Linked DNA regions of Homo sapiens. The protein of the gene in region 1 interacts with the protein of each later gene in a pairwise test. Each region holds a gene or a part of one and is shown in the gene's direction. Other genes may lie near its edges.

Evidence for each region.
Region 2: the proteins of BFSP2 (region 1) and BFSP1 interact in binary tests that used the Homo sapiens proteins (3 or more experiments, as listed by UniProt).
Region 3: the proteins of BFSP2 (region 1) and RNASE10 interact in binary tests that used the Homo sapiens proteins (3 or more experiments, as listed by UniProt).

Annotation. Positions count from the first base shown.
Region 1 is NC_000003.12:133,444,908-133,452,228, forward strand, and holds part of BFSP2 (phakinin), read left to right. Parts: intron 1-497; exon of another isoform or gene 498-668; intron 669-2,409; coding exon 2,410-2,492; intron 2,493-3,581; coding exon 3,582-3,738; intron 3,739-3,873; exon of another isoform or gene 3,874-3,988; intron 3,989-5,395; coding exon 5,396-5,557; intron 5,558-7,321.
Region 2 is NC_000020.11:17,528,141-17,536,393, reverse strand, and holds the start of BFSP1 (filensin), read left to right. Parts: upstream 1-5,014; 5' UTR 5,015-5,064; coding exon 5,065-5,441; intron 5,442-8,253. UniProt on the Homo sapiens protein: Required for the correct formation of lens intermediate filaments as part of a complex composed of BFSP1, BFSP2 and CRYAA. Involved in altering the calcium regulation of MIP water permeability.
Region 3 is NC_000014.9:20,500,691-20,508,672, forward strand, and holds the start of RNASE10 (inactive ribonuclease-like protein 10 precursor), read left to right. Parts: upstream 1-4,846; 5' UTR 4,847-5,329; intron 5,330-7,982. UniProt on the Homo sapiens protein: Secreted proximal epididymal protein required for post-testicular sperm maturation and male fertility. May be involved in sperm adhesion to the egg zona pellucida. Does not have ribonuclease activity.

The DNA of each region.
Region 1 (7,321 bases):
GTGCACAGATCACCTCTGTAACCTGCTCAAGCCCTTTCAAAGGCTTCCCAGTAAATCTCAACTCCTTTCCATTGTGCCCAAGGCCTTCCCTCTATGGTCTGGTCTTGTCTACCTTTTTAACCTCATCTCCTACAGTAGCGGCTGGTTTCTCAACAAACAGGACAGAGCCTGGCATAAACAGTAATTATGTGCTGAAGAAATTAAGGCAAGAATGAATGAGTGAATAAATAGAAAAGTTTCATGGGGAAGCCGTGTTTGAAATGAGCATTATACTGGAGCAGGCTTTCTCAGACTGAGGGCTGGGAGTGGGGAGGTAGTGAAACAAGTTGCTCTCAATGGAGGCAGCAGGTGCAAAGGCACAGAGGGATTCCAGGTGCAGCAGGGAGGCAGCTAGAGCAGGCCTGGGGGCAGGGCCATGTGAAACCGGGGTTCTCAAGGTTGAGTATGCATCATAAGCCCCTGGAAAGCTTGCTGAGACACAAATTGTTGGGACCCACCTGCAGAGATTCTGATAGGTCCATCTGAAACAGGAGCTGAAAAGTGCATTTCTCACAAGTTCCCAGGTGATGCTGCTGCCACTGGTCCAGGGCCCACACTTTGAGAACCACTAGTGCAAAGTACAGTCAGTCCTTCACATCCATGGGTTCCACATCCATGGATTCAACCAACTGTAGATCAAAATATTTTTTAAAAAATAGATGATTGCGTTTATACTGAACATGTGGGCTTTTTTCTTGTCATTATTTTCTAAATAACACAATAAATAACAACTATGTACATAGCATTTCCATTGTATTGGGTATCATAAGTAATCTTGAGATGATTTAAAGTATATGGAAGGATGTGTGTGTAGGTTATATGCAAATACTACATCATTTTATATAAGAGACTTGAGCATCCGTGGGGGACTGGAACCAAGACCCCATAGATACCAAAGGACAACTGTACATAGGTTTTCTATAAGCTTTAATTTTGGAGGGTAGGAATTGTTACCTTAAAAGAAGGATATAAATCACTATTTTAAGCCAATATTAGTCCTTTGATACTTAAATGTGAATGAGTTGCAAGTTCTTTATCAACCAGAAGGAGAACTCCAGGCACCAGAGGTGAGAGACAGGAGTGATTAAGAACTGGGAAAGGGAGACACCCTAGTCTGCCTGCTCCCCAGTGTGCCCCAGGCCAAGCTGGAACAGAAATGATTAGCTTTGCTAGTGGGGAATTCAATGAAAATGGCAGGGTTTGGTGGCTTACACCTGTAACCCCAGGACTCTGGGAGGCCAAGATGGGTGGATAATTTGAGGTCAGGAGTTCGAGACCAGCCTGGCCAACATGGTGAAACCCCATCTCTATTAAAAATACAAAAATTAGCTGGGCGCAGTGGCACATGCCTGTAATCCCAGCTACTCAGGAGGCTGAGGCACGAGAATATCTTGAATCTGGGAGGCAGAGGTTGCAGTGAGCAGATATTGTGCCACTGCACTCCAGCCTGGGCAACAAAGCAAGACTCTGTCTCAAAGAAAAAACAAAAAAAGTAATTCAATGAAATGAAACAAAATAAGACAGCCACACTGGAGCAAGGGGAAAGCAGTTATTTTCTTCTCCCATAGCTGGGATTTGGCTCCACCCTGCAGGCTCCCCCTATCAGAGCCTTCAGCTCACCATTTATATATATATATATATATATATATATATATATATATATATATATATATATATATATATATATATATATAAAGGAGTTTCTTGGGTTGAAGGGAGGACACCCCTCATTCCCTACCTGTGGGAGATCCTGAGAGGCTTGGGGATTCAAGTTTGAAAAACCACTCCTCAAGGCTCCATGAAACCCCTAAACTATATCCACAATGTTTATGTTCACGTGTATGTTTTGGGGGAGACGAAACTCTAGAGCCACGCTGCCCAATACGGTAGCCACGGGTGGCCACCATGCTGGACAGTGCAGACAGAGCATTTCCACCGTCACAGGAAGCTCTCTCAGCACTCATCTAGAGCTTTCACCAGCCTTCCAAAGGCATCCATGACCAGAAATTTTAAGAGCTGCTAGGCAAAGCCAGTGAAACTTCATCTAAGGAGCCGGACTCTGCCCTGGAGAGATGAAAGCTTGTCACTGTGACAGAGGCTATGAACAAGTCTGCCTTTGAATAGTCTTTTTGTGCCAAAAATCCCACTCTAAAAACTCTTAGAAGATATCCAGATTTTATGCCTTATTATTTATATCCCCCCACCCTGACCATTGTCCAAAGAGAGGGACATCTTAATTCCACAAATATTTGCTGTAAGAAAGGTTCTCTGAGGTCCCCCAGAGCCTCTGTGCCTAACACAAGTCATGGTGGTAAGTGATCTTGACGCTCCCAGTGACCTTGTCTCCTTTGGTGTGTGTGATCGCTCTAGGTGGGTGAGGCAGTCTTGGAAAATGCCCGGCTCATGCTGCAGACAGAAACTATCCAGGCCGGAGCAGATGACTTTAAAGAGAGGTAATGTCTTACAGCAGAGGCGACAGTCCCTCCACATCCCTAGACTCCTAGGCAAGTGTGGATAATGCTGTTCTGGAGCCTGCATCATCCACCTTCTACCTCAGGGGAAGCTGGCAGGATAACAGAGCCATGATTATCCAGCTCACACCCCTCCTTGTAAACATAAAGTAGGCCCCAAGGGCTCAAAGATTTTGCCCACTGTCAGTTGGTTTAGAGCAGGGTTCTCAAACTCTGGAATGCTCAGAATCACCCAGGGGCCATATAGAAAACAGAGATTGCTGCGCCCCACCCTGTTGAATTTCTGACTCAATGGGTCTGGAGAAGGGCCCCAAATTTATATTCCTAACAAGTTCCCAGGGATGCTGATCCTGCTGGTCCTGGGACTCAAATACTTTGAGAACTACTAGCTTACAGTAATGATTCTCCAACCTGGGCATATCAGAATTACCTGGGCACTTAAAAATGTCAGTGCAGTGCACAAGCCATAGACTAATTAAATCAGAGTCCCCAGGGGTTGGGTCCAGGCTTCAGCAGTTTTAGAGCTCACCAGGTGACTTAATGTGCATCCAGGCTTGAGAACCGTGCTCAGCTACACCTCCCACTCAGTCCCTGAAGGCATCTGGGTTTGCAGCCACTCTCCTGGAGATGGACACTTTTAACATGGGTGCTTTGGAGACAGAAACCACATTTCTTATTTTGGGGTCCCCACCCTGGTGCTTAGCAGGTTGTCAGTAATGTTTGTTAAAGGATCCTTGGTTGAAAAGGAGGACAATCAGGATAGCGATGAAGATGCCGGATCCCCTAACCTGGATCTGAACTCCTGAGTTTTCCCTGGAGTTCTGTGTTGCAACACTCCCATGAGGCTGGTAGCCCGGGAAGCCAGGTTATCAGAAGTTGGCTGCAATTGCCTTCATTTTAATAAATCAATGTGTGACAACTGCACTAACAGTGCCCTCAAATCTATTGAAACAGTGACTTTTACCATTCATTGTCTAACTATCACATAATTGGCCTGTTGGTAACATTTATAATCTGATTCTTTTTCTTTTGGGCTACTCAGTTATGCTAATTAAGTTCCTTTATCTGCAGATATGAAAATGAGCAGCCATTTCGAAAGGCGGCAGAAGAGGAAATTAACTCTCTGTATAAAGTCATTGATGAGGCTAATTTGACTAAAATGGACCTGGAGAGTCAAATAGAAAGTCTGAAAGAAGAACTTGGCTCTCTATCAAGAAACTATGAAGAGGTAGGAGGGGGCTGGGGTTGCTGGGTTGGCCACAAGACCAGAAGTTCACATCTGTCTGCCTGTGCTTCATAACAAGGCCACAGTAGCTCATTTCTGACTCTCCACATTGCGTGCCCAGGACTGCAGGGAACATACCTGTAAAATACTTTCAGATCCTTGAAGTGGGTCAGGTTACCCCAGCAGTCTCAAACTCAAATAGCTTCAGGAACCAGTGTGGTACAGAAACAGGGGAAGGCAGCCAGTCTTGGCACTAGCAAATGAGGGAACTTGTGTTAAATTAGAGGGAGCAACCCCTCCTCAATGCATTCTATGTCAGGTTTTTTTTTCAACACTGTATTATACAAACAAAACAACTCTGAGGGTAGATCCAAGCTGTGGTTGACATCTACTCATTAACAAAACTGGGTCAGATTATTGAGTGACAGAACTGAAGAGGACCTCCAACAGTTATGGGGTCTAGTTCCCTGCGAGACTTCAGCAATTCTAAACCACCTCACACATATTACTGTCTGATCCAAGATTTAGGCTGCTTCAAGTTGAAAGAGTCAAAACCCACTTAACGATGCTCACATTGGGAAGTTCTTTCTTGAGACCAACTTAAGCTAACCAGCAACTGTAAGCCCATTTCTTCTTGTTCTTAGCTCAGTGATTTAAGACTACTCTCCAACAGTAACCATTTAGAGATGCCAAAGTTATCTTTTAAGTCTCTTTCATCCTTGTCTGGCTTTATGCATAAATGCCCTGTGCTGTTGTTGCTTACTTTGTTTTTGTTTTTGTTTTTGTTTTATTTTACTTTAAGTTTTAGGGTACATGTGCACAATGTGCAGGTTAGTTACATATGTATACATGTGGTTTTTTGTTTGTTTGTTTGTTTGTTTGTTTGTTTGTTTTATTTTGATTTCTGCTTTGGGCCTGGGCTTGTGGAGACCAACCTAAGAAATGCATCCTTGGTGCTAGGCATGGTGGTTCAAGCCTGTAATCCCAGCACTTTGAGAGGCCAAGGCAGGGGATCACTTGAGCCCAGGAGTTCAAGACCAGCCTGGGCAACATGGTGAAACCCTGTCTCCACTAAAAATACAAAAATTAGCTGGGCATGGTGGTGTGTGCCGTGCCTGTGCCTGTAGTCTCAGCTACTCAGGAGACTGAGGTGGGAGGACTGTTTGAGCCCAAGAGATGGAGGCTGCAATGAGCTGAGATCATGTCACTGCACTCCAGCCTGGGTGACAGAGTGAGACCCTGTCAAAAAAAAGAAGGAAGGAAGGAAGGAGAGAGAGAGAGGAAGACAGACGGAAAGAAAGAGAGAAAGAGAGAGAGAAAGAGAAAGAAGGAAAGAAGGAAAGGAAGGAAGGAAGGAAGGAAGGAAGGAAGGAAGGAGGGAGGGAGGGGGAGGGAAGGAGGGAGGAAGAAAGAAAGAGAGAGAAGGAAAGGAAGGAAGGAAGGAAGGGAGGGAGAGAGGGAGAAATGCATCCTTGGGAAAAGAGAAATTACACTTACGCTGGGAAGAAGGTCAGGGACTTTCCCAGTCTCTGTGAAGCCTGTGTCTGGCAGTTGTGGAATGAGAAAAGAATTGCCCACAGAGCTGGTTTTCTGCTGGCTAGAATTCTATGCCATTTATTTCCCCCCGTAACTCATCTAAGATGTATATTGTTGTTTTCAGGATGTGAAGCTGCTGCACAAACAGTTGGCAGGGTGTGAGCTGGAACAAATGGATGCTCCCATTGGCACTGGTCTGGACGACATCCTTGAGACGATCAGAATTCAGTGGGAGAGAGATGTTGAAAAGAACCGGGTGGAGGCAGGAGCCCTGCTCCAAGCTAAGGTGAGAGGCAGGACCAGCATCCTCCACTCTGCCCTATGCAGAAGGAGGCCACGCTGAGCTGCAAACTAGTCAATGTGCAGACGAAGAAATAACAACGGTTTAGTAACAAGTTCAACCTCATTAGAAACAGAAGAAATGAAAATTAAAATAATAGCTTTTTGTTTACCTATCTAAAAGTAGAAAATGTTTAAAATGGTAAAAATGCTGGCAAGTATGTGGAGAAGTAGGTTCTCTACTGTATTACTGAAGAGCATAAACTAGTGCACTGCCTTTGAATAAGAAATTTAGTAATATGCACCAAGAGTGTTAAAATGCCCCTAGCTACCAACTGAATAATCTGAATACAATCCTGAAAGAATAATTGAGGCCGGGCGTGGTAGCTCACGCCTGTAATCCCAGCACTTTGGGAGGCCAAGGCGGGCGGATCATGAGGTCAGGAGATCGATACCATCCTGGCTAACAGGGTGAAACACTGTCTCTACTAAAAATACAAAAAATTAGCCGGACGCATTGGCAGGTGCCTGTAGTCCCCGCTACTCGGGAGGCTGAGGCAGGAGAATGGTGTGAACCTGGGAGGCGGAGCTTGTAGTGAGCCAAGATTGGGCCACTGCACTCCAGCCTGGGCAACAGAGCAAGACTCTGTCTCAAAAAAAAAAAAAAAAAAAGAATATTTGAAAAAATAAATCATCTGTGTCCAAATATACTCACTGAAGCATTATAAGAGTGAAAAAAACATACACATTTACTAGTAGAAGAAAATCTAAGCCACAACCTACCTATGTGCAGTAAAATATCAGGCAGTTATTAGAATTAATGTTTATGAAGCATTTATAAAATAGGAATGTGTTCATAATATGAGGTAAAATGAGGAGAAAATGAGAGTACAGAATGGTATATGCCAGAAGCCAAAAAATATTCTCTGTAAAGGACCAAACAGTAAATATTTCAGGCTTCTTGGGCCAGATGGCCTCTGTTGTAACTCCTCAGCGCTGCCACTGCAGTGTAAAAGCAGCTGTAGCCAATAGGTAGCTAATGAGCATAGCTGTGTTCCAATAAAACTTTATTTACAAAAATAAGCGGTGAGATGGATTTGGCCTGTGGACTGCAGTTTGCCACTTCCTGGTATATACAGTAGGGTAAAGCATTCAAACAAAGAAACTAGGCATTGAGAAAAAATTTTAGAAAGAAAAGACTAAAATGGGATTAGCAGTCGTTGCCTTTGAGTGATGGATCAGTCTGACACTTTGAGATGTTTTTTCTTTTTTGTTTTTGAGTATTTCTCAAGTTTTTGTTAAATAGTATACATTATATTCATGGAAGAAAAACAACTTTTATTAAACCTCATAAATAATACAGGAATTAACCAGAAAATAGGATGCATAGGGTTTGTTCTTCCCTTCTCCATCTCCCACCCATTTCTGACTTTGTAATCTTGAGACAGAGGATGAAAAGTGACAAGGAAGGAAAATGTGGAAAAGTAGAGAAAATAAGGTAGATGTCTGAGTTAAGGCAAAAGGCTGTTTCTGAGCTCTTGATTACTATTTAGTGGTTCTTGATCCTGGCTACGCAGCAGAATTATTTCAGAGCATTTTCAAAAATCGCCATCCCAGACCAACCAAATCAGACAGAGGAGAGGGACTTTGTGATTTTTAAAGCTCTCTGGATGATTCTAATATGCAGCCAGATTTGAGAACCATAAGAATTATAAAAAGCTATGAAAAGAAAAATAGGAGAGGCTTTTCTGTCCTTTCTCCCACCATACTC
Region 2 (8,253 bases), on another chromosome or scaffold:
TTTTTTGTCGACATGGGGTTTCACGATGTTGCCCAGGCTGGTCTTGAACTTCCGGGCTCAAGCAGTCCACCCGCCTTGGCCTCCCAAAGTGCTGGGATTGTAGGTATGAGCCACTTCACCCAGCCTTAAACAACTTTAAATGGAATAAAAGATATGATGAACATTAAACCTGGCATATTTCACTAATTTCTGATATTTTTGTACTGCTAAAATTACCATGCATCTGGTATTTTGCTTTTCTTTTCCCCTTCAAGTTTGTTATAAGCATTTTTATTTATATCATAGTATATTCCACAAGGTTAAAATTGTTTGGTGGGGCCAGGTGTGCTAACTCTTACCTGTGATCCCAGCACTTTGGGAGGCTGAGGCAGGAGGATTGCTTGAGGGCAGGGAGTTCGAGACCAGTGTGGGTAACATAGCAAGACCCTGTTTTTTTAAAAAAATAAATACATAAATAAAATAAATAAGTAAAATTGTTCAATGGTTATAGCCCATTTTCTCCTATTGTTACTGCAGTTTGCTAAGCCATTCTCCTCTCTGCACCTCTCCCTCTCTTAGCCATTATACATATATATAGCTATAACATAAAGCAAGTAATATTTATTAAATGTCTATACTGCAAAGGTGATCACACTTTTTGCAGGTGTTTTGGAAAATAATTTCAAACTTTCTAGGAAAAATGGCAAGAATAGTACAAACAACCCAGATTCACCTCTTAATATTTTGTCTAATTTCCTTACTATCTCTCATACTTATTTATGTTTATATTTATACATGTCATTTTATTCAGAATCATTTGAGAATAAGTTGCATACATCATGGGTCTTTGCTCCTAGATAGTTCAGAGTATATTTTCCTTTTTTTGAGATGAAGTCTCGCTCTGTTGCCAGGCTGGAGTGCATTGGCATTATCTCGACTCACTGCAACCTCTGCCTCCTGGGTTCAAGTGATTCTCCTGCCTCAGCCTCCCAAGTAGCTGGGACTACAGGTGTGTAGCACCATGCCTTGCTAATTTTTTTGTATTTTTAGTACAGATGGGGTTTCACCATGTTGGCTAGGATGGTCTTGAACTCCTGACCTCATGATCCGCCCACCTTGGTCTCCCAAAGTGCTGGGATTACAGGCGTGAGCCACCGTGCCCAGCCTGAGCCCTCAGAGTGTATTTTCTAAGAATAATGATATTATTTTACATAGCTGTAGCATAGTCATAAACTTCAGTAAATTTAATCTTGATACAATTTTATGTTCTAATCTACTATTTATATTCTAATTTTGTTAATGAACCTAGTGATAACCTTTATAGCAGTTTTTCTCCTCCAATACAAGATCCAGTCTAGGATCCATATTGCATTTATTTATTTATTTTTATTTTTGAGATGGAGTCTCACTCTGTCACCTAGGTTGGAGTGCAGTGGCGTGATATTGGCTCACTGCAACCTCTACCCCTCCGGATTCAAGGAATTCTCATGTCTCAGCCTCCCGAGTAGCTGGGACTACAGGCACAAGCCACGACGTCCGGCTAATTTTTTGTATTATTAGTAGAGATGGGGTTTCACCATGTTGGCCAGGCTGGTCTCGAACTCCTGACCTCAGATGATCCACCCACCTCAGCCTCCAAAGTGCTAGGATTACAGGCATGAGCCACCACACTCGGCCCTATACTGCATTTAGATGTCCTGTCTCTTCAGTCTCCTTTAATCTGGAACATTTTCATAGCTTCTCTTTGTCTTTTATGATATTAACATTTTTATAGAATACCATCCCCCTTCTGTTTTTATTAATAGGATGTTCCTTCTTTGGGATTTATCTGGATGATTCCTTATGGTCAGATATAGGCTACATATTCAGGTTATGCAGGCCAGATAAAAGACGTGTATTTCTCAGACAAACCAAGATACCCTTGAGAGTGAAAGATGGTGCTTGCTATATTTACGCTGAGATAGTGGGTGTAAATGTGTCTTAGGCAAACTGGGATGTGTGGTTACCCTACTTACATAAGTGATTATTCTCATTTTACCAGTCTCCATACTGGGACTAGATAGGTTAAATCACTTACTGAAGTGATGGGACCAGAACTTAACCTCAGATCTTTCTTATTCTAAAACATCCATTTCCTGTCCCTGCCCCCAAACTAGTGCCATTCAACTGTATTTAGAGTAACTCTTCCATAGCTGACCTTTCATCAAGTCCTGTGGAATCTATCTCTACGAACATGTCTCTTGAATTAACAAATTCATTCAGCAATGATTTCTTCCTTATGCATACGATCTCTACTCCTACTGAATGGTCTCCTATCAGTGATATGGTCTTTAGGGCTGTTGACAAATATTGCACACTCCTTCTAAGCACATAGCAGGATTGCATTTCCCAGTGCACCTGAAGTTAGACAATACAACCACAGCATTTTGCTAAGATCTTTATTTTAGAAGTTGTCCAGATTATCTTGTGTTTTCATTAGTCAGTATGGATTCGCCTCCTGCACCCTGAGGGCAGAGACTTGATTTTGTGCAATATTTAACTCTGAGGCTACGCTTTGTGAGGAGATATTTTCTGAGTGTTTATTTCACTGGATTAAATTGAAAGAATTTTTTGTTATGTTTCTAGAATATATTTTTCTCAAATGGTATTGCCATGTGTGGTCGATTGAGTTGTGGGTCCTGATTCTCCACTCCAGCATGATGGGATTATCCACCCACACCCTTGCCAGGGCCTCAGGCTGAGCCCTGCCTCCTCCTTGCTTCCTCTTGACTTTATTTGTGGCCATGTGATTTGCTTTGACCAATGAGATGTCAGCAGACATGATGCAAACAAAGGCCTGGGATGAGCTTGTGTGGCTGGGCTTGCTCTTGTGCTTTTTTCATTGCTAGTTTAGAAGCTTGAGGGACATTGGGAGCAGAGCAGCCCCTGCTGAAAGGAGACCTACAGCTGGAAGACAGCTGAGCTCCCAGCCCCAGGGAATGCAGTGATAAATACTTCTATTTTGTTCTGTAGCAATATTTGACTGATACATGGTATCATAGGGAACAAATGATTTTATAACTCTTGCTATATGTTGGTTTTGCTCTCGTGAGGAAGCCTGAAGTCAATTTACCATGCTATCAGCATGGTATATGTGCACCTACAAAAATATTCATGTGGTTATCCTCAATTTGACCATACAATTACATTTTATGTATTTTTATTTATTATTTTTATTTTTATAAATAAAAGAAATGGGGGTCTCACTATGTTGCCAAGGCTCGTCTTGAACTCCTGGCCTCAAGAGATCCTCCCACTTTGGCCTCCCAAAGTTCTGGATTAGAGGTGTGGTCCACTGCACCTGGCCAAATCTAATTTTAAATGGTTTAAGAAAATAGAACAATAACCATGCCACCAGCACAGTTTAGGGCCTTGCAGAGCTTTATTCCAGACGGAATCTATTATCTTGAGGTAATATTTTGGTGTAATAATAAACTCCACAAAGATCTGTGTAATTTTCTTTCTCTATCTTTGATAACTATGACTTTAATTTGTAGTATAATCACACACAATCCATATAGTTAGTAATTATATGGTACTACTAATCCTTTTAAGAAAACAACCCTTTTGATACTTATTTTTAAAGTTGGAGATATGACAAAATATTTACATTCAGAAACATTCTCATCAAGTGGTATTAATTTCTTTTCTTAAATTTACTTTTAAATTTGTCAAAGTCTAGCTATTAATTATATATATATATTTTAAAAGCTTGTCCTTAAAATCCAACTATTAGTTCCATAATAAAAATTAAAATGGAACATAATGGCACAAAATCCTTTATTATTCTCGAATTGAGGGTTGGCCAATTAATGGCGGATCACTTGAGCCCAGGAGTTTGAGTCCTGCCTGGGCAACATAGCAAGACCCCATCTCATTTTTTATTAAAATTTTTTTGTATTACATTTTATGTTAAAAAAAGAAAAAGAAAAAAGCAATCTTTTTTTCTTTTTCTTTTTTTTTTTTTTTTTGAGACGGAGTCTCACTCTGTTACCCAGGCTGGAGTGCAGTGGGGCGATCTCGGCTCACTGCAGCCTCCGCCTCCCAGGTTCCAGCGATTCTCCTGCCTCAGCCTCCCAGGTAGCTGGGATTACTGGCACACGCCACCACGCCTGGCTAATTTTGGTATTTTTAGTAGAGACGGAGTTTCACCATGTTGGCCAGGCTGGCCTCGAACTCAGGTGATCCGCCCGCCTCGGCCTCCCAAAGTGCTAGGATTACAGGCGTGAACCACCTATTACAGGCCCATGGGTGGGGCTCTATTTGTTTTTTCCATTCAAGAAAGCATGTCAAACTCCATCAGAGCATGGGTGAATTATAAAAACATAACCGTGCATGTCTCCTAAGTTATTGTAGGCTTTTATGCACGGGTATTACTAAGAAATTACTTGCGCCACACCTCACTACTTAATGGAGACATGCCATTTTATTTTGCATCCATGGTTAAGAACCTCTGCTATACAGAAGGGTCCTAAACGTCATGTTATGATTATGAAAAAGAATTGCATGCATAACCGAGCAATTGGAAATAAAAAAGACCAAAAGAAAAAAAAAAGAATTGCTTAAGTAATCAGAAAAAAAAAATGGCATTGTTAAAGAGTTCTACAATTGAGTTTGAATGCAAGAGGAGACAAAGTGACAAGCCCTGGGCTCTTGAGCTAGTCCAAGTTTAAAGAGTTCGCTTGGGGATTCCTTCACAGTCCCCAGTGGAACCAGTGAAAAGAGCGTCATGGCTCCCGTGTCCCCTGACCCTCCATTCAATCAAAAGCAACAGGCCTGAACAATCACGGAACAAAAACCTCATTGCCCAGCGTAACCTTCCAACCCCGGAGCTGTATGGGCCGCTAATCCGCCGCACAAAGCGGGCCGCTGCTCTTTTCTTCTCCCGCGCCCGGGCCCAGCGTGGCGCCCAACTGCTGATCGGCTCTGGAACGTCCCAGCAGCGCGCCGGGGGCCTCCGGTGTTTATTTAGCGGGCTGCGGGCTGCGCCGGGGGCCTCCTGGAGAGCCGGCTCGGCGCCGCCCGCGCGCCCGCGCCAGAGCAGCCATGTACCGGCGCAGCTACGTCTTCCAGACCCGCAAGGAGCAGTACGAGCACGCCGACGAGGCTTCGCGCGCCGCCGAGCCCGAGCGCCCGGCCGACGAGGGCTGGGCTGGGGCAACGAGCCTGGCGGCGCTGCAGGGGCTCGGCGAGCGCGTGGCCGCCCACGTCCAGCGGGCCCGCGCCCTCGAGCAGCGCCATGCCGGGCTCCGGAGGCAGCTGGATGCCTTCCAGCGCCTGGGCGAGCTGGCCGGGCCCGAGGACGCCCTCGCCCGCCAAGTCGAGAGCAACCGCCAGCGCGTCCGGGACCTGGAGGCCGAGCGCGCCCGGCTGGAGCGCCAGGGCACCGAGGCGCAGCGCGCGCTCGACGAGTTCCGAAGCAAGTAAGCGGCGGCCATCGGGGGAAACCGAGGCAGGGCGTGGGCCGTCCCGGCGGCGCGGGGCTGGGAGCACGCTGCTACCATGCAGGGGTGGAGCGCCGTCTCTGGTCCCCTGTCGATCGATGACCTCATCCCTGCACGCAGGTGGCACATTTCCTTAAGCTAAGACTGGCTTCTGTTTTGATGGCACGTCACAGTTTACACGAAGTTGTATCATTTACTTTTCATCTATTTTTAAATTTTGGTATAACTTACATGTTATAAAATGCACAGATTTGAAGTGCATAGTTCAGTGAGTTTTGACAAATGTATATACCCGTGTTACCACGAAAACAAGTGAGATATTTCCACTACCCCTGAAAGTTCCCTCCTCCCCTTTCCCAGTCAGTCCCCTTTGCCCCAGACCGGAGGCACCCATTCTGATTTCTATCACCATAGATTGACTTTGCCTATTCTACAGTTCCACAAAAATAGAATCTTACGGGATGTACTCTATTGTCTGGCTTCTTTTGCTCAGCACATTGGTTTTGAGATGTACCGATGTTATTTAATCCTTACATACTTATCTTTACTGCACCTGTTTTACAGATGAGGCGACTGAGGCTCAGAAAATGTAGGGATTTGGCCAGCAAGGCCCCTCAGCTGGCGAACTGCTGTCCCGGGACTGGAATTTAGGTCCTGGGCATGCTAAGTCTAATTGCCTTCATGGCATAGCAGCTGACACCTGGGAATTATGCTCAGTATGTGTCCTCTAGTGTCTTGATACTCAAAGTGCGGTCCATGGACCAGCAGTATTGGCATCACCCGGGAGTTTGCTAGAAATACAGATTCTTGGGCCCACCCTAGAACTCCAGAATCAGAATCTGCATTTTAACAAGCTCCCCAGGTGATTTTCAGTTTAAAAAGTTAAATGTTGACTAAGCAGCACTGGTCCAGGGCATGGTCTCCCCTCCCACAGATTGAGTAATGTGTTAAAATCACATAGGAGCTGTTAAAAAAAAGATGCAATTTGTCAACATTTTTTCAAGTTATAAATGTGTGTGCTCTTTGACTCAGAAGGCTACTTTGAGGAATGTATTATAGGATGCACTCCAGCAGGTGTGCAATGGCATGCCTCCACCAATACTGCAGCAGGTACACTCCAGCAGGTGTGCAATGGCATGGCTGCAAAGATACTCACTGCAACAGGTACACTCCAGCAGGTGTGCAATGGCATGCCTGCAAAGATACTCACTGCAGCAGGATCTGCAATAAGCCTGGAACCAAATAAATGCCCATTAAAAGGAGACAGGTGCTTCCTCCATGTAATGGAATACTATGCAGTGGAAAAAAGTATGTTATTGTCATGTAGTCTTTTAAAAGGGGAGGAGAGTAGAGTTTTTTTTTTGCTTGCATAAAAAGAATTTCAGGACACACACAAAGACACACACACACAGACACACACACAGGCACATGCCCCAATGACACTGGCTACCTGAGGGAGATAAGTGAGTAGGAACTGAGCAATTGGGAGACAGAGGTGGGAAGGAGACTTTTAACAGAACATCTTTTTATATCTTTAAAAAAATTATTTAACTATGGGCTGGGTGCAGTGGCTCACGCCTGTAATCCCAGCACTTTGGGAGGCCAAGGCAGGCAGAACACTTGAGGTCAGGAGTTCCAGACCAGCCTGGCCAACATTGTGAAACCCTGTGTCTACTTTAAAAAATACAAAAATTAGCTGGGTGTAGTGGCACACGCCTGTAGTTCCAGCTACCCGGGAGGCTGAGGCAGGAGAATCACTTGAATCTGGGAGGCGGAGGCTGCAGTGAGCTGAGATTGCGCCACTGCACTCCAGCCTGGGTGACAGAGTGAGACTCTGTCTCACACACACACACACACACACACACACTTATTTAACCATGTAAGATATTCATCCATTTAAAATTACATAAATGAATTTTAAAATACAGATGTCTAGGCTCTACCCTGGACCTCAAGAGGGGCCCAGAAGCTTAAACATTTTTAATGAGTGCCACTGGTCATTCCAGCCAGATTTGGGAACCCTTGGCATAGGGTAGTCAGAGGATTTCTGTAAACCTGCTCTATGTTTGAGTTCCAGTTTCTCAATCTGAATCTTGGGCAGGTTATTCATTGTTGTGTTCTGAACACATTTATCAAATCACATTTATTGATTCGATTCCTGTCAGCTCTTTTGTCTTGGGGTTTAATCTGTAGAAACAGACTTGGAGCTGGTAGAAGGGACCTGAAAATCCACTTGTTACAGAACTTCATGGGGAAACTGAGCCTGGGAGAGGGCCTGTGGGTGGCAGAACTTGAACCTGGGTTTTCTCACCCTGGGCCTATGCTCTTTCGGGAACACTGTATCTTGAGATAATCCGTTCTTGGACTCCTGCAGCCTAAGGCCCAGAAATAGGACCTCATTCAGATGAAGCTCATGTTCTCCAAAGCAAAGGGGGAAAGTGCCCTGTGGCTCAGACATCCGGGGCAGCTTGATGGACCATCAAGATTCCCTGGATGGCCTTTGTGTTGGCATTAGACCATAGTCTACTGTACTTTGGCTGGTAAGCATGACATCCATGAGTCCTAGTTGAAGGAAAGGCCATGTTGGGTTTTCCTGGTCTTTACTGATTGCACTTGGTTCTGAGTTATATGCCCATCATGAAGCAGTTCCATCAGGCTCTGTGATTTATTTAAAATTCATATTAATTTATTCCCTCCCTTTGCCCCCTTGGAGAAGTTTTGACATTTGGATTGTGGTAGTGGGAACTGAAAATCATTATAGAAATGCTCATCCACATCCATAGGCACACAC
Region 3 (7,982 bases), on another chromosome or scaffold:
CCTGTCTCAGCCTCCAAGTAGCTGGGATTACAGGTGCCCTCCACCAAGCCAGCTAATTTTTGTATTTTTAGTAGAGACGGGGTTTCACCATGTTGGCCAGGCAGGTCTTGAACTCCTGATCTCAGGTGATCTGCCTGCCTTGGCCTCCCAAAGTGTTGGGATTACAGGCCTGAGCCACCATGCCCGGCCAACTTGTAGTTTCTATAGACATGTTAAACTTAACGTCAACATGGGGTTGAGTTGGGTGGAGGAAGATTGCAAAGATACACACCAACGTGTAAATAACAGTAGGATGAGGGTCTTGTGTGTGTATTTGTGTGTTTCTATATACTATTACATAAAACTTCTATAATGAGCATTAACATTTTGAAAAACTTTTTATTTTGAAATAATTATAGATTCACAGAAAGTTGCAAAGATGGTACAGAGAGTCCCCATGTACCTGTCAACAGTTTTCCCCAGTGGTTATATCTCACTTAAAGAGTACAATATCAAAACCAGGAAATAAACATTAGTGTGGTGTGTGTGTGTGTGTGTGTGTGTGTGTGTGTAGTTACAAGTCATTTTATTGTGTGTTTATTCCTGTAACCACCACTGCAATCAAGATACAGAACTATTCCATCACCACAAGGATCTCCCTGGTGATACCTCTTTGTAGTCACGCGTATATCCCTATCCCCATGATCCTTGACCCTGCAACTATGAATCTGTTCTCCATGTTATGTAAATGGAATCATACAGTACATGGCTGCTTGATGATACATTTTTTTCATTTAGCATAATGCCCTTGAGATGTATCTAATTTATTGTGTGTATCAATAGTTCATTCCTTTTTACTGCTGAGTCATATTCCATGGTACATGTACCATGGTTTGCTTAATGCATCACCCATTGAAGAACATTTGGATGGTTTCCAGGTTTTGAATATTATGAAGAAAACTGCTATTTTATTTCTGTACAGGTTTTTATGTGAACATATGTTTTCATTTCTCTGGGTTAAATGCCAAGGAGTGCAATTGCTGGGTTGTATGGTAAGCATACACAGTTAGACAGAAGGAATAAGTTACAGTGTTCAATAGCACAGCAGGATGACCATAGTTATCAATAATTTATTGTATATTTCAAAATGATTAGAAGATTTGGAATGTTCTCAACACAAAGACATGATAAATGCTTGAGGTAATGGATATCCCAATTACTCTGACTTGATTATCGAACATTGTATGAATGTATCAAAACCCCACAAATATGTACAACTATTATGTATCAGTAAAAAAAGGAATCTGACAAACTGTTTTACAGAGTGGCCATAACATTTATATTTTCACCATTAATGTATGCGTGTACCCAGTTTCTCTGCCTCCTTGCCGGCAGTTGGTATTTGCGCTATTTATTCTTTTAGCCATTCTGATGGATGTGCAGTGACATCTTGTCACTCCAGATCTCTGAAGTTCTGTCTGCAATTCTGTCCTCTCTGGTACTGTGCTCTGTGAACTCCAGTTGCCTTGGCTTCCTTGGACCCCCAGTTTTATCTCCTCAGCTCAGGAAGACTGGCGGACTCTGCCTGGGTCTCCCTCTCTGTGCCACAGCCTGAAAACTCTTTCTAGGAAATAAGCTGGGAGAATTGTAGGGTTCAGTTTTAACATCAATCTTTTCTACCCCTATCTCTTTACACCTATCTATCTGTCTGTCTATCTATCTACCTATCATTTATCCACCATCTATTTATTTATCATAAATTTTTCTTAACTACAAGCCAAGGGTTTTAGTATCAGAACTGCTATTAGTTATCTGTAGCATTTGGGACATTAACTTACTTGAGCCACTTCTTTGTTGGTGAAATGAGGGTCATCTTATATCAGCCTTCTCATAATTCCTTCTGAGAGATTCCAGGATACTGGTTGACTCTTCTAGAAGATACAGTGAGCAGTGTTGGTAGCTACGGTCCTTAGTATGTGCTATTTCTAAACAGGAAAATGATATTGATTGGGTGGGTAATGAGCATGTGTTGGTAATTGCTATGTAAGAGCAATAACAACAACAACTAATACATTTAGCCTTTTACATGCAGTGTCTTATATAATATTTACAACAGCCCTGTAAAGTAAGTGCTACTATTATCCAAATTTATTCATTTTTTATTTAAAAAATTTTTTTAGTATTATAAACCACTTTATGTCCAAGAACGATTCAAATTTAGAAGACGAGAAAACTGTAGCCTAGAAAAAGAAATAAAAATGAAAATTAAAAACCTGTCCAGTCTAAAGGTTATACTTACACAGACTTAGGTTCTTTCTTTGTATTTAATTAAAGGTTAATTTCAAATGATCTCTAGTAGTAACAAAACTCTTTAGTTATAAAGAAGCAGGTGATGCATGGTTGTTGAATACATTACCCCTGCTGACCTTAGACTGCTGCTGGGCTCAGCAGATAATTCTTGATTTTCTCTTCACATTGCAAATAGACCTCACCAGAATAAATGGGCAGAATAGACACCAAAGAGGGATAGCGCAAGCAAATGTGAGGGTGAAATGCAGTCAGTGCCTTGCAAAAGGAAGTGCTCAATACTGGTAGTCGGTGTCATTGCTCTTACTGCAAATTATAAACACCAGCACTGCAAAAGTCAGCCCAGTAGACTTTGTAAATCACAGAAGTGGCTCCTAGACCACCATTTGAAAAATTCTGCCTGAAGGACTAAGGAAAACATCTTCTTTTATTTTTATTTTATTTTTTTATACCACAGTTTAGGAAAACATCTTCTTAAAAGATCGTGTTTATGTCTACAGATGATTTTTATAGTGCCTTAACAGTCTCCAGAGTGGTTTTAAAAATATTATCTCAGAATGTCAATTTCAGCTAAAGAAGTGAACCTTAGGATCAACATTGTAACCCTCCTGGTTTTATTCACCCAGAGTATAGGGACTGATAATGATAATGCTGCTTTGGATAGTCTCCTATCTAGGGCTAAATGATCAGATTTGCAAAATCCAGATATTCTTATGGGAATGTGGTTATTGGCTAGGGGAATGGAAAGAGGGAGTAGAGAGTGGAAAACTGGATAAAGTTATAGGTAAAGATATGTGAAAACTCATGATTGTCTCAAATACTCTAAATCTTGTCATAATACACTTGTAAAGTAATAATCATGTTGGAGAGATGGCCAAATAAAGGCCAAAGATCTTGACACTGCAGAAATTATAGGAGAGGATTAAAGGAAGTACATGTGGCAGATATAAGAAAAGACTAAACTTGAGATTCATGCACAAGGTCAGGCTGCATAAACCACAGGATAGCGGGTGTAACTCAGGAGCAGAACAATTGATCCATGAAACAAAACTGTCTGCAGTTTCCCAGGCTGGAGAGATTTCCCGTCTTGGATGTCTGGATCTGTCTCAGTGCCCAGATAGCCTCACTTCAAAGTGTTTGTGGGAACAGAAAGAATTGGCTGAGTGTGTTTGTTCAGTGCTAGGCGGAGGAAGTGAAACGGGGAGTGGGTTTAGGAAGTAAGTGTGTGTTTAAGAGCACGTGGACCACCAGAAGATAACCATTTTTCTTCAGACTAGCAGCCAGGGCACTGCTCACGAAGAAGGAAACCCTGGGAGGGAAGAACTTGGGGAACGAGAGGACACAAGAATCTCTGCAGCTGCTTATGCATGTACGTAAGTCACAGAGGTGTTGGGTGCCTCAAGGAACAACATGGAAGTCCTCTCTCTTTTTTAAAATAAATAATTTTTTAATAAATTTTCGAGCACTTTGGGAGGCCGAGGCGGGCGGGTCACGAGGTCGGGAGATCGAGACCATTCTGGCTAACACGGTGAAACCCCGTCTCTACTAAAAAATACAAAAAATTAGCCGGGCGCGGTGGCGGGCGCCTGTAGTCCCAGCTACTTGGGAGGCTGAGGCAGGAGAATGGCGTGAACCTGGGAGGCGGAGCTTGCAGTGAGCCGAGATCGCGCCACCGCACTCCAGCCTGGGCGACAGAGAGAGACTCCGTCTCAAAAAAAAAAAAAAAAAAAGGAATCTGTCATTACAACCTTCTCTCACAAAGAACTCCAGGCGCAGACAGCATCACCACAGCATTCTACCAACCATTTACAGGGAAAGTAATGCACGTCCACAAAACTCTTCCAGAAAGACAAGGGAGCACTCACCAGCTCCTGAGGCCAACGTAGCCTCAGTCCCTAACCCAGCAAGGACAGCAGCGGAGAGGAGCTCACAGGCCAGCCCCCGCCACACGTACACACCACTGCGAGGCTCCAAAGCTCAAGCAGCGTGTATCCAGCGAATACAACAAGAATAATGAAAAAGCGTTATCTGATCAATTGCTAGAGGAGCAGAAGTAACTCTGGCAAACCTCACTGAATGTGAATCCTGAAAGTGCCTTGATCTGCGGTTCTACAAGTTATGGTGCTGGAGGTCTCAGCCAATGCTGTAGGGTAGGACAAAGAAAGAGCTCCAGTGCCAGACAAGAAAAAGTAAAACTCTGATTGATTCACCCATGAAACAGTGTCTGTGTTTAGAAACCCCAAAAGAATATATAGACAAATCATAAGGATGAAAAAGTGAGTTTGCTCCCTCTCCCTCTCCCTCTCCCTCTCCCTCTCCCTCTCCCTCTCCCTCTCCCTCTCCCTCTCCCTCCACGGTCTCCTTCCACGGTCTCCCTCTGATGCCGAGCCAAAGCTGGACGGTACTGCTGCCATCTCGGCTCACTGCAACCTCCCTGCCTGATTCTCCTGCCTCAGCCTGCCGAGGGCCTGCGATTGCAGGCGCGCGCCACCACGCCTGACTGGTTTTCGTACTTTTTTGGTGGAGACGGGGTTTCACTGTGTTGGCCGGGCTGGTCTCCAGCTCCTAACCGCGAGTGATCCGCCAGCCTTGGCCTCCCAAGGTGCCGGGATTGCAGACGGAGTCTGGTTCACTCAGTGCTCAATGGTGCCCAGGCTGGAGTGCAGTGGCGTGATCTCAGCTCGCTACAACCTCCATCTCCCAGCCGCCTGCCTTGGCCTCCCAAAGTGCCGAGATTGCAGCCTCTGCCTGGCCGCCACCCCGTCTGGGAAGTGAGGAGCGTCTCTGCCTGGCCGCCCATCGTCTGGGATACGAGGAGCCTCTCTGCCTGGCTGCCCAGTCTGGAAAGTGAGGAGCGTCTCTGCCCGGCCGCCATCCCATCTAGGAAGCGAGGAGCGCCTCTTCCCCGCCGCCATCCCATCTAGGAAGTGAGGAGCGTCTCTGCCCGGCCGCCCATCGTCTGAGATGTGGGGAGCACCTCTGCCCCGCCGCCCTGTCTGGGATGTGAGGAGCGCCTCTGCTGGGCCGCAACCCTGTCTGGGAGGTGAGGAGCGTCTCTGCCCGGCCGCCCCGTCTGAGAAGTGAGGAAACCCTCTGCCTGGCAACCGCCCCGTCTGAGAAGTGAGGAGCCCCTCCGTCCGGCAGCCACCCCGTCTGGGAAGTGAGGAGCGTCTCCGCCCGGCAGCCACCCCGTCCGGGAGGGAGGTGGGGGGGGGTCAGCCCCCCGCCCGGCCAGCCGCCCCGTCCGGGAGGTGAGGGGCTCCTCTGCCCGGCCGCCCCTACTGGGAAGTGAGGAGCCCATCTGCCCGGCCAGCCGCCCCGTCCGGGAGGGAGGTGGGGGGGGTCAGCCCCCCGCCCGGCCAGCCGCCCAGTCCGGGAGGTGAGGGGCGCCTCTGCCCGGCCGCCCCTACTGGGAAGTGAGGAGCCCCTCTGCCCGGCCAGCCGTCCCGTCCGGGAGGGGGGAGGGGGGGTCAGCCCCCTGCCCGGCCAGCCGCCCCGTCCGGGAGGGAGGTGGTGGGGGTCAGCCCCCCGCCCGGCCAGCCGCCCTATCCAGGAGGTGAGGGGCGCCTCTGCCCGGCCGCCCCTACTGGGAAGTGAGGAGCCCCTCTGCCCGGCCAGCCGCCCAGTCCGGGAGGGAGGTGGGGGGATCAGCCCCCCGCCTGGCCAGCCGCCCAGTCCAGGAGGGAGGTGGGGGGTCAGCCCCCCGCCCGGCCAGCCGCCCCGTCCGGGAGGGAGGTGGGGGGGTCAGCCCCCCGCCCGGCCAGCCGCCCCGTCCGGGAGGGAGGTGGGGGGGGTCAGCCCCCCGCCCGGCCAGCCGCCCCGTCCGGGAGGGAGGTGGGGGGATCAGCCCCCCGCCTGGCCAGCCGCCCCGTCCGGGAGGTGAGGGGCGCCTCTGCCCGGCCGCCCCTACTGGGAAGTGAGGAGCCCCTCTGCCTGGCCAGCCGCCCCGTCCGGGAGGGGGGAGGGGGGGTCAGCCCCCCGCCCGGCCAGCCGCCCCGTCCGGGAGGGAGGTGGTGGGGGTCAGCCCCCCGCCCGGCCAGCCGCCCTGTCCGGGAGGTGAGGGGCGCCTCTGCCCGGCCGCCCCTACTGGGAAGTGAGGAGCCCCTCTGCCCGGCCAGGACCCCGTCTGGGAGGTGTGCCCAGCGGCTCATTGGGGATGGGCCATGATGACAATGGCGGTTTTGTGGAATAGAAAGGCGGGAAGGGTGGGGAAAAAATTGAGAAATCGGATGGTTGCCGGGTCTGTGTGGATAGAAGTAGACATGGGAGACTTTTCATTTTGTTCTGTACTAAGAAAAATTCTTCTGCCTTGGGATCCTGTTGATCTGTGACCTTATCCCCAACCCTGTGCTCTCTGAAACATGTGCTGTGTCCACTCAGGGTTAAATGGATTAAGGGCGGTGCAAGATGTGCTTTGTTAAACAGATGCTTGAAGGCAGCATGCTCGTTAAGAGTCATCACCACTCCCTAATCTTAAGTACCCAGGGACACAAACACTGCGGAAGGCTGCAGGGTCCTCTGCCTAGGAAAACCAGAGACCTTTGTTCACTTGTTTATCTGCTGACCTTCCCTCCACTATTGTCCTATGACCCTGCCAAATCCCCCTCTGCGAGAAACACCCAAGAATGATCAATTAAAAAAATAAATAAATAAATAAATAAAATTTTCAACTTTACAAACAAATGTGATAATAATTCATGGAACTCATGAATATTCTTTATCCAGGTACATTATTTTTTTAAACTTCCCTTATTTATTTATTTATTTATTTATTTATTTATTTATTTAGAGATAGATTCTCACTCCGGTTGCCCAGGCTGGGGTGTAGCAGTTGGATCATGGCTCACTGCAGCCTCAACTTCCTGGGCTCCAACCATCCTCCCACCTCAGCCTGCCTGGTAGCTGGAACTGAAGACACACGCCACCAAGCCAGGCTAATTTTTTCATATTTTTTGTAGAGATGGGGTTTCACCATGTTGCCCAGGCTGGTCTCAAACTCCGGGACTCAAGTGATCCACCTGCCTCGGTCTCCCAAAGCACTGGAATTGCAGGCATGAGCCACTGCGCCCAGGCCCCCTATTTATTTTTTATCATTTTCTCTCTCTCTCTGTAAACACACACATGTATACATATCCATATATCTATATTCCGAAGCATTTGAGAGTATATTGCATATGTTGTGCTCTTTTCCTGCTTAATATTTCAGTGTGCATCTCCTAAGAAGAAGGATATTTTCTTAAACAATCAGGGTACAGTTTTACATTCAGTATATCAAATACATATATACAGTGATTCTCCCTACCCAAAGTTTCAGTTACCCATGGTCAACGACGGTCTGAAACTATTAAATGGCAAATTCCAGAAATAAACAATTCATAATTTAATGTTGCATGCTGTTCTGAGTAATGTGATGAAATCTCTCACCGTCTCACTCCATCCTGCCTGGGATGTGAACCATCCCTTTGTCCAGCGTGTCCATGTTGTAGACACCACCCACCCATTAGCTACTTAGTGGCCAATATCAGATGCACCGTCACAGTATCTCAGCGCCTGTGTTCACATAACCCTTATTTTACCTAGTAATAGCCGCAAAGTGCAAGAATGATGATGCTGGCAATTCAGACACGTCAAAAAGAACCCGTAAAGTGCTCCGTTTGAGTGAAAAGGTGAAAGTGTCTCAACTTAATAAGGAAAGG